Linked DNA regions of Homo sapiens. The protein of the gene in region 1 interacts with the protein of each later gene in a biochemical or structural test. Each region holds a gene or a part of one and is shown on either strand. Other genes may lie near its edges. The genes, in order: APPL1, MAGI2 and SHANK1.

Evidence for each region.
Region 2: the proteins of APPL1 (region 1) and MAGI2 interact in a test that uses a peptide from one of them, tested with the Homo sapiens proteins (one large-scale study listed by IntAct).
Region 3: the proteins of APPL1 (region 1) and SHANK1 interact in a test that uses a peptide from one of them, tested with the Homo sapiens proteins (one large-scale study listed by IntAct).

What each region holds. Positions count from the first base shown.
Region 1 is NC_000003.12:57,234,113-57,237,765, forward strand, and holds part of APPL1 (DCC-interacting protein 13-alpha), read left to right. Parts: intron 1-1,453; coding exon 1,454-1,552; intron 1,553-3,379; coding exon 3,380-3,439; intron 3,440-3,653. UniProt on the Homo sapiens protein: Multifunctional adapter protein that binds to various membrane receptors, nuclear factors and signaling proteins to regulate many processes, such as cell proliferation, immune response, endosomal trafficking and cell metabolism.
Region 2 is NC_000007.14:78,257,078-78,260,730, forward strand, and holds part of MAGI2 (membrane-associated guanylate kinase, WW and PDZ domain-containing protein 2), read right to left. Parts: intron 1-3,653. UniProt on the Homo sapiens protein: Seems to act as a scaffold molecule at synaptic junctions by assembling neurotransmitter receptors and cell adhesion proteins. Plays a role in nerve growth factor (NGF)-induced recruitment of RAPGEF2 to late endosomes and neurite outgrowth.
Region 3 is NC_000019.10:50,664,175-50,667,827, reverse strand, and holds part of SHANK1 (SH3 and multiple ankyrin repeat domains protein 1), read left to right. Parts: coding exon 1-1,636; intron 1,637-3,653. UniProt on the Homo sapiens protein: Seems to be an adapter protein in the postsynaptic density (PSD) of excitatory synapses that interconnects receptors of the postsynaptic membrane including NMDA-type and metabotropic glutamate receptors via complexes with GKAP/PSD-95 and Homer, respectively, and the actin-based cytoskeleton.

The DNA.
Region 1 (3,653 bases):
AAGGCTGAGGCATAAATTATTTTTAGAATAAAAATATATCTTTTAGATTTTAAGCTGCAGTTATCTCCAGTAGTTATTGGTATTTTCATTCTTCCCCTGGGCCTTTGGGATGTAATGTGAGTATGTCTACCTTGCCTTTGATAGCCTTAGTTTCCTTATCTTTGACAAATTTTTATTGACATTCTTTTTTTTTTTTTTTTTTTGAGACGGAGTCTCCCTCTATTGCCCAAGCTGGAGTGCGGTGGCATGATCTCGGCTCACTGCAAGCTCCGCCTCCCAGGTTCACGCCATTCTCCTGCCTCAGCCTCCTGAGTAGCTGGGACTGCAGGGGCCCGCCACCATGCCTGGATAATTTTTTTGTATTTTTAGTAGAGATGGGGTTTCACCGTGTTAGCCAGGATGGTCTCAATCTCCTGACCTCGTGATCCACCCGCCTCGGCCTCCCAAAGTGCTGGGATTACAGGCGTGAGCCACCGCACCCGGCCTGACATTCTTAACATTTACTTATAAGCTTTCCCCCTTAAAATAAAGATAATTTAAAAAAATTTTTTTATTTTGAGACAGAGTCTTGCTTTGTCGCCCGCCCAGGCTGAAGTGCAGTGGCGTGATCTCGGCTCACTGCAACCTTCACCTCCCAAGTTCAAGCTATTCTCTTGCCTCAGCCTCCTGAGTAGCTGTGACTACAGGCACGTGCCACCACACCCGGCTAATTTTTTGCATTTTTAGTAGAAACGGGGTTTCACTGTGTTAACCAGGATGGTCTCAATCTCCTGACCTCATGATCTGCCTGCCTCGGCCTCCCAAAGTGCTGAGATTACAGGCATGAACTACTGTGCTCGGCCTAAAATGAAGATAATTTTTAAATGTGCATGGTAGAAAAATGACAAAACAAAACAAAAGCCAAACAATATAGACATGTATAAAGAAGAAGAAAGGAAAACCCCCAAATTGTGCATTCGGAAAAACCTAGTTAGCATTTTATATGCTGAAGAGTCGGCCATGTTGGGGAGGGTGTACTGTGGTATTTTTAGATTAGGACAGGAAGGGGTTTGGCCTCTTCTAGCAAAAACTGTAGAAGAAATAATCATACTAAATTATCCTGAAGTAAGACATTTAAAATATTTATACTACATGGAATGCTGTTAATTTAGCTTTGAACGTTTCTGTTGATTTGTTCTTAGTTTATAGAATTTTTAGTTTATGAAAATATACCTCTGTTGTTTCTCCTAAAGTTTGTGTGACATAGTTGGAAAATACCTCTGCTTTGTTGAAGTGAAACTAAGAACAAAAAAAAAAGACTTCTTAACATTACTATCAAAAGAGACAAAATAGATTAAAACTCAGAATTACTAGAACTTTAATATCCTACGATTTTTGCTTCCTTTAGAAAAAATATTTTTCCATCTGATTTGTATAATGATTAACATAAACTTATTGCTATTGTTTTATACAGACAAGGTCTTTACTAGGTGTATTTGAAGAAGATGCCACAGCTATTTCCAACTATATGAACCAGTTGTATCAAGCTATGCATCGGATTTATGATGCACAGGTAAAACACTAAGGACTAACTTGATGCTTTTAAAACACGAATCTTTAAGCCTCATGAGGACAGATAGTGTCTGTCTTGTTTACCACTGCTTTAGCCCTGTGTTAGGCTCATAGTAATAAATATTTGTTGAATGGATTAATGAACATTGAGTGTATTACAGAACTGACATTTCAACTACTAGTGTACAGTTTGTAGTACTACAAAAGTGATAGACGATTGAAGCATCTGCCCATTCTCCCCAAACATAGTTTGGGGGGAACCCCCCATTAAACTCACTGATAGTGATCTTTCCTAAGATTTGAATGAAGACCCCATGTCATCACTGGTATTTTCCCTAATCATGCTTATTACAATCTTATGGAGCACTTCCCCACCCCCACTTTTTTTTTTTTTTTTTGAGATGGAGCTTTGCCCTTGTTGCCCAGGCTGGAGTGCAGTAGTGTGATCTTGGGTCACCACAACCTCCACACCCCAGGTTCAAGTGAGTCTCCTGCCTCAGCCTCTCAAGTAGCTGGGATTACAGGCATGCACCAGCACGCCTGGCTAATTTTGTATTTTTAGTAGAGACAGGGTTTCTCCATGTTGGTCAGGCTGGTCTCGAACTCCCGACCTCAGGTGATCCGCCCGCCTTGGCCTCCCAAAGTGCTGAGATTGTACCCAGCCCCCTTTTTTTTTTTTTTGGAGATGGAGTTTTGCTAATGTCTCCCAGGCTGGAGTGCAATGGTGCAATCTCAGCTCACTGCACCCTCCACCTCCCAGGTTCAAGCAATTCTTCTGACTCAGCCTCCTGAGTAGCTGGAACTACAGGCATGCACTACTACGCCCAGATAATTTTGTATTTTTAGTAGAGGCAGGGTTTCACCATGTTGGCCAGGCTGGTCTCGAACTCCTGACCTCAGGTGATCTGCCCGCCTCGGCCTCCCAAAGTGCTGGGATTACAGGCGTGAGCCACTGCACCTGGCCAACACTTTCCCTTTTTCAGTGGAGGATTTGAAAGTTGGCTGCCTCTGTCTAGTTAAAAGAAGGCACTAAAAATTAGATGTACCTCTGGAGTACAAGAAGATGAAGGGTATGACTAAGTTTTCTTATTGACCAGCAATAAAATTTGAAGCTATGTTTGGATAACTTAATTATAAGCTTAAACAGCAACCTAGGTTCTGTAATATACTTTCTTTGGGATTAATTAAGCGTACAAGTTTTATTTTTTTCCCTTCTCATATTGTTTGCTTTCTGGCTTCACATTTTCATTATGTACTTAAGAGTTGCTATGTTGTTGTTTAGTTTTTCCTTGTGATCAGGCTCTGAAGCTTTGCTTTCTGACTACAGAGATATATGATTAATATGTTAAAGAAATGTTCTCTTTGTTATATTCACCAAAAAAACTAAATTAAAGTTTTTCATATGGCTGTGTTGCTATGTTATATGACTGGGTCAACCACATTTTGGTTGTATGTTATTAAGTGCTTACTGTAGTCTAGTATCAGCATCTACAGAGGGCAATAATCAGTCATCAACGTAGATGCTCTAAAGATTTTGCTAAGGTTATATCAGTTTATTTCTAGGCTTTAAAGTATTTAGTGCTTAGTTTTTATTAGCAAAAAACAAACACCAGGAACACTGCTGAATTCCTGGAGAGTGTCTATTTTATGGTTTGAGTTTTCTTTTAAAGTGCTTTAATGGTAGTACCCCTTTCCAGTGATTTAATGAAGGTTTTAAAAAACATGTACAATATTTATGTTAAGTGATAATAAATAAATTAGGTATTTAATTAGAAAAAACTAAAACTTTTTTCCCAGTAATATGCTAATTTGAATGCTTTTTCCATAGAATGAATTAAGTGCAGCAACACACCTGACCTCAAAACTTTTAAAAGAATATGAAAAACAGGTATTGTATATCAAAGTTTTAAAAGCATAATTTTAAAAGTATAGTATCTGTATAGATAGACTTTCAACAAGAATCCTTAAGTTTTCTTGAATTCACAGAATATGCCATTGAAATTTCATGATAGCACTTATGTTCAGATAATTTTAATGATTTAATATTAAATACAGAGGCTATCTAGTTTACTTGTTTTCTTTTTACAAATGAAGAAGCTGTG
Region 2 (3,653 bases), on another chromosome or scaffold:
ATTTTTTTCCATCTATAGCAGGTAATTACAAAGCTTCCATGTATATGCGAGCAAAGGTCAAGGGTGCAGGTTTTGGGATTAGGGAGCTGGGTTGACACCTTGGCTCTACTATTTAACAGATACATGATATTGACCAAGTTCCCTGCTTTGAGCCACAGTTCCTCATTTGTAAAGTTGTGAGAATGAAATGACATAATGTAGGAAAAGTACTTGGCATAGTGTATGACACACAGTGCTCAATAAATGTGGACTATTATTAATATGATTGTTGTTAAAATAGGATGGAGGAGATTTGGGTCCCTTGGTTTCAAACAGAAAGTTGCCACAGTTCATCCTCTGATCTTAGATAAACTAATATTTCTGTGGATCAGTTTCAATAAAGGCACTTGTCCTTTCTCCCCAGTGAACTATCACAGATTTTCAGAGGTCTACTGGTTAGAGGCTAACTTTATGATTAGAAATGCTCTGAATGCAAATTATCCATTATAAAATATATTCAGAGAAATATTTTTTCCTGCTTAAAATGCAGAAAATCATGGCTGTTTGAGATAAATGTTTTTTTAAAAATTTCAATTATGTATGAATAACAATTTTATTTTTGGAGAACTATTTTATCATGGATTGGTATTTTTATCTTCACAAACCATAATACTTGAAAATTGAGCTTGCAAATTGAGATTGTGCCTGACTATGCTGAGGAGTATATTAGGGATGAAGAGACATGTTTTCACAGATCTTGAAATAAGCAACTCAACAGACATCAGTTTATCAGAATAATTCTGGAATGGGAGGTACAAATGGCTAGGGATTTCATTCTGAGACATCCTTGCCCAGCAAGCTTGCAAACGTTAAAAATGAAAAACAGAGTTGAACTTTTAGAGTTGACAACTTTTCTGGTCTTTTGTAGGTGTATAACATAAAATGAATAAAACAATTAACAGCATTGTCTTAATTAACAGTCCCTCTTCCCAAATTGACAGAGAGGCCAAGCAGACATTTTCAGGGATCCAGGTTAGGTCTGCCTCTAGAAAATGTCACAACCTATGTGATTGGTCAGATGGAACTTCACTTTTCCATAATGTCTATCAGAGAGGGTACTGATGTGGTGGCTGGAACGTGGGTCCACGGCTCAGAACTGAATTGGAGTGGACATTCCCTCACTGTTATTATAATTCCTCTTCAGACTGTGGCAGCTGGGGATGCTTTGGGAATCGTTTTTAATTGATTCCATTCATCTCAGTGTCCCAGAGAAGTGTCTGATTCAGATAGACTATTTTTCTCTCCTGTTTCTTTTAGTTTTAATGTTATATTTTCTACATTTAAAAGGTTGAAAGAACAACAAATACTTGTATACTAACATCCAACTTAATGATTGGAACATTGCTCATATTAGTTGAATCCCCCTTGGCTAGCACCTCTCCCCCAACTTGCACTCCTTTACAGCCCTTTCCAAGGTAACCATTGCCCTATTTGAGGTTTGTTATTTACATATACCTTTATAATTTATATCATATCTAGGTGTCCGTAAAAACAATATCTCTAAATAGTATCTAATCTCTAAATAATAATAATCCCTGGAAAGTATTTTACATATTTTAAGCCTTTTGTAAATGGTATATATTTTAATATTCTGTAACTTTTCTTAAAATATGTTTGTGATATTTATCTATTTTGATACTTGTGCCTCTAGTTGATTAGTTTTCATTGTAATACAGTATTTAGTGATGGCTATATTACTACTTAATAACATTCATCCATTCTTTTGTTAATGGACACCGGAGTTATGACAAATCTGTGGCTATTGAAAATAACTCTGCTATGAACCCCATGCTGGCACAGACCATGTGCATCTTCAACTTTGTTAGATAGTGGCAAATGGCTGACAAAAGAGGTCACATTGATTTACACTCTGATCGGTAGTGTGTTGAAATTTTCATTGCTTTACATCTGACACAGTACTTCGTATTCTCAGACTTAATTTTTACCAATCTAATGGATGTGATCATAGTTTTGATTTGCATTTCCCAGACTGCCAGTGAAGGTGAGCATCTTTTCATGTTTATTGGCCTTTTGGATTTTCTCTTGGGTATGCCTCATTTCCTCAATTTCCTATTCAGTGAGTTTTTTTTAACTCATTGACTATTTTTTATGTCTACTTTCATTCTTGCTCCAACATTCTTCTTAGGTTCAGGAGGCTGCAAGGTATAGTAGAGATCACATGGGATATGAGGTCAAAAGACTTTGGTCTGAGTTCTAGTTTCATCACTTATTAGCTGTATAACTTTCCCAAACTGGCTTCAATCCTCTGTGACTCAGATTTTTTAGAAGTAATGATGAACAATAGTAATAGCAACTTATTGTTCCATGGGAAATAACGAATGAGATCATACAGGTGAAAGGGTTTCTAAGCTGTAAATTGTTATGCAAAAGATGATTGCTATTTCAGTAATTACTCTTTGTCCTTTGTTATATTCTTCTATAAAATCAGGACAGTTCTACCCAGATATTCCCACCACAGTTACAGTCAAGGATGACTTGAGTATGATTGTGGAAACAATGGGTTTCTGAATGGCCAAGTAAAAGTCAGAGAGGTAACAAATGCCACTTCCTCTAAGGCTCTCCCTAACTTTAATCACTGTTAACAGACTCCCCAGTCCCCAAGCACGCTCTCTCCTTCCCTCTGCTCTGCCAGAATTTCACGGGAAAGAACTAAGGGTTATGTTGAAAGCTCTCAAGTTTCCCTGCCAGGTCTAGAGAGTAGTAGTTTGAATTGTAGTGATTAATGTTACCTATTTTTGAGTTTTAATGTGATCTTGCTATTTAGAAACAGAGTGAGAACTATTTGTGTTTCTTAGTAAGACTGCCTTTTACAATTTATGGATATTTTCCACTAACAGCAATTTTTCAAGTCATCAGGCAAGGATAAAGAACACTGCAACAATATCTTTATGAAGATACGTAGAAGATTTCTGAATGTAAAAGATGAGTGGTCAGTTATCACAGGATAAAACTATATAACAACTTGATGGTACTCAACTGCCCACTTTAAAAAAATATATAGATGTCTAGATAATAAGTCATGCCCAAAACTCTTATAGACGGGGATGTCAGCAAACATTTGCTTGTTCAGATAGAACTTATTGGATAGAATATTAATAGACTGTGCTGTATGAATGTCATTTACATGTCGTGAAATAAAAATATAAGACACCTGGTATATGTCATCTGACGGTGCCATGCCAAGTCCTCAGACAGATTGGGTTTAAGAGCACAGAAAGGGACATCATCAGGAAGACTGGCTCTGGCTCTAACCTGTTGGCCTACTTAAGACGGAGAATTGGAAGAGTCACTTGATCTCCCCATCTCTCAATTTCTTCTTTTATAAAATGGGAATAAAAATATCTCTTACATTTCCTCTTTTGCAGAGCTACTGTGAAAATGAGATCATCCTTGTGAAAATACTTATAATTTTATCAAATTTTTTCTCCATAAAAATAAGAAGATACATTTCTTTTGAAAGCTAAGCATATATTTTCATTACTACATTGCTGGAAAATTTACTTTGTTTGCTAAATGGTCATTCACTTCAGGCCATATTTAGGTTAGTTCTAGGGCTACTGACCTCAGGCCTGTTGGTCAGATTGAGTGTGAGT
Region 3 (3,653 bases), on another chromosome or scaffold:
CCAGGCCCCCATCGCCCCGCTACGAGGCCCCGCCGCCCACCCCGCACCACCACTCGCCCCACGCCCACCACGAGCCAGTGCTGCGTCTCTGGGGGGCCTCCCCGCCGGACCCTGCGCGCCGGGAGCTGGGGTACAGGGCCGGGCTGGGCAGCCAGGAGAAGTCCCTTCCCGCCAGCCCGCCCGCCGCCCGGCGTTCCCTGCTACACCGCCTGCCGCCCACCGCTCCCGGGGTGGGGCCCCTCCTGCTGCAGCTGGGGACGGAGCCCCCGGCCCCGCACCCCGGAGTAAGCAAGCCCTGGAGGTCCGCAGCCCCCGAAGAACCCGAGCGGCTGCCGCTGCACGTGCGGTTCCTTGAAAACTGCCAGCCCCGGGCCCCTGTGACGAGCGGAAGGGGTCCCCCCTCGGAGGACGGGCCGGGGGTCCCGCCGCCCAGCCCACGCCGGTCCGTGCCCCCCTCCCCGACCTCCCCGAGGGCCAGCGAAGAGAACGGGCTGCCCCTGCTGGTCCTGCCGCCTCCCGCCCCCTCGGTGGATGTGGAAGATGGCGAATTCCTTTTCGTGGAACCGCTGCCTCCGCCTCTGGAATTCTCCAACAGCTTCGAAAAGCCAGAGTCGCCCCTCACGCCTGGGCCTCCCCACCCGCTGCCCGACACACCTGCCCCTGCCACCCCGTTACCCCCTGTGCCACCCCCGGCTGTGGCCGCAGCCCCTCCCACCCTGGACTCCACCGCATCCAGCCTGACATCCTATGACAGCGAGGTGGCCACCCTGACCCAGGGGGCCTCCGCCGCTCCTGGGGACCCCCATCCACCAGGCCCGCCTGCCCCAGCAGCACCGGCTCCCGCTGCCCCACAGCCTGGCCCGGACCCTCCGCCTGGCACGGATTCTGGCATCGAGGAGGTGGACAGTCGGAGCAGCAGTGACCACCCACTGGAGACCATCAGCAGCGCCTCCACGCTGAGCAGCCTATCTGCCGAAGGTGGTGGCAGCGCAGGGGGTGGGGGCGGGGCTGGGGCCGGTGTGGCCAGTGGGCCGGAGCTTCTGGACACCTATGTGGCCTACCTGGACGGCCAGGCCTTTGGGGGCAGCAGTACTCCCGGCCCGCCATACCCTCCTCAGCTCATGACTCCCTCTAAGCTCCGGGGCCGGGCGCTAGGAGCCAGCGGAGGCCTGCGGCCTGGCCCCAGCGGGGGACTCCGAGACCCTGTTACCCCCACCAGCCCCACCGTCTCGGTGACAGGGGCTGGAACCGATGGGCTGCTGGCCCTGCGTGCTTGTTCAGGACCCCCCACGGCAGGCGTGGCGGGGGGTCCGGTGGCTGTAGAGCCAGAAGTCCCACCGGTGCCCTTGCCGACGGCCTCCTCTCTGCCCCGGAAGCTGCTGCCCTGGGAGGAGGGCCCGGGCCCACCGCCACCACCTCTGCCCGGGCCCTTGGCCCAGCCTCAGGCCTCAGCCTTGGCCACAGTAAAAGCCAGCATCATCAGTGAACTCAGCTCCAAGCTTCAGCAGTTTGGGGGCTCCTCGGCAGCTGGCGGCGCTCTGCCCTGGGCCCGAGGAGGCAGTGGGGGAGGCGGAGACAGCCACCACGGGGGAGCCAGCTATGTCCCCGAGAGGACCTCCTCCCTGCAGCGGCAGAGGTAAGCGGGGGCTGGTGGCCAACAAGGGAGGCCAGAGGTGTTGATGGCATGGCTGTGTCCCTTTAGGGTCTCAGGGTGGCAGAAAGGAAACAGAAACCAGGTTGGCAGGAGTTTGCTGTCACAGAAGCATGCTTTCACAAATATTTTCTTTTTCTTTTTTTTTTTTTCTTTTCTTTTCTTGAGAGGGAGTTTCACTCTTGTTGCCCAGGCTGGAGTGCAATGGCGTGATCTCGGCTCACCACAACCTCTGCCTCCCGGGTTCAAGCGATTCTCCTGCCTCAGCCTCCCATGCCACCACACCCAGCTAATTTTGTATTTTTAGTAGAGATGGGGTTTCTCCATGTTGGTCAGGCTGGTCTCGAACTCCCAACCTCAGGTGATCCATCCGCCTTGGCCTCCCAAAGTGCTGGGATTACAGGCATGAGCCAACATGCCTGGCTTTTTTTTTTTTTTTAGAAACAGGGTCTCACTCTGTCACCCGGCTGGAGTGCAGTGGTGTAATCATAGCTCACTTGCAGCCTCAAACTCCTGGGCTCAAGCAATCCTCTGGGACTATAGGTGCACGCCACTATGCCTGGCCAATTTTTCTTTTCTTCTTCTTTTTTTTTTTTTTTTTTTTTTTTTTGAGACAGAGTCTCACTCTATTGCCCAGGCTGGAGTGCAGTGGTACAATCTCAGCTCACTGCAACTTCTGCCTCCCAGGTTCAAACGATTCTCCAGCCTCAGCCTCCTGAGTAGCTGCGATTACAGGTGCCCGCCACCATGCCCGGCAAATTTTTGTATTTTTAGTAGAGATGAGGGGTTTTGCCACGTGGGCCAGGCTGGTCTTGAACTCCTGACCTAAGGTGATTCATCCCACCTCGGTCTCCCAAAGTGCTGAGATTCCACACATGAGCCAGCATGCCTGGCCCTGGCCATTTTTTCTTTAACTTTTTGTAGAGACAAGCTACGTTGACCAGGCTAGTTTCAAACTCCTGGGCTTAAGTGATCCTCCTGCCTTGACCTCCCAAAGTGTGATTACAGGTGTAAGCCACTGGGTCCAGCCTTTAAATTTCCATTTATTTCAGTAGCTTCTGTTGTCTCTGCCCATCACCATCACAACCTACATCCCATGATGAACAAAAAGTTATTAACAGGCTGGGCGTGGTGGTTCACGCCTGTAATCCCAGCACTTTGGGAGGCTGAGGCGGGTGGATCATGAGGTCAGAAGATCGAGACCATCCTGGCTAACACGGTGAAACCCCATCTCTACTAAAAAAAATACAAAAAATTAGCCGGTCATGGTGGTGGGCACCTGTAGTCCTAGCTCCTCAGTAGGCTGAGGCAGGAGAATAACTTGAACCCGGGAGGCCGAGGTTGCAGTGAGCCAAGATTGCACCACTGTGCTCCAGCCTGGGTGACAGAGTGAGACTCCGTCTCAAAAAAAAAAAGTTATTAACAAAGGAGACTGGAGTGAGACCTGCTTATGTTTGTTTCCTTGGTGAGCTGCCACTTCTTTCTGACAGTCCCTGAAATCTGTGAGTCCCTTGAAGCCAGTGTGGTTCAAGACAGGATGCAGTTATAGGTGTGGTTCTAGAGCCCACCTTCTCAGCTTCCAGTCCCAACCCTGCACTTTCTACCTGGGTGATCTTAGGCAAATGAATCCACCTCTCTGTAGAAGTGGAATGGCCTAGTGCCAGCCCAAAGAGTTTTTGAGAGGATTTAGTGTGTGCCATTGTTGTAACATGGGATGGGGGAAGAGGGGGCCTCGAACAAGAGCCCAGCAACTTCTACGTGGGGAAATACGGGATGATGCAGATGCTTCCCAGAGCAGCCAGTCAGCTGCATCGTCGCAGAATTCGAGCCCATTCAAGACCTTCTAGTCCTAGAGAAAGTAGAGTTACATTTCTGCTTCAGATACACAGAGGGTTGGGAGCAGGTTTTAAATATCCTTGTCCATCTACAGAGTTCACTTGAATTCTGTTTGAAGGTCTGCTATCCAAATGTGTCTGACCTTCAAATGTGGGTTCAGGGAGTG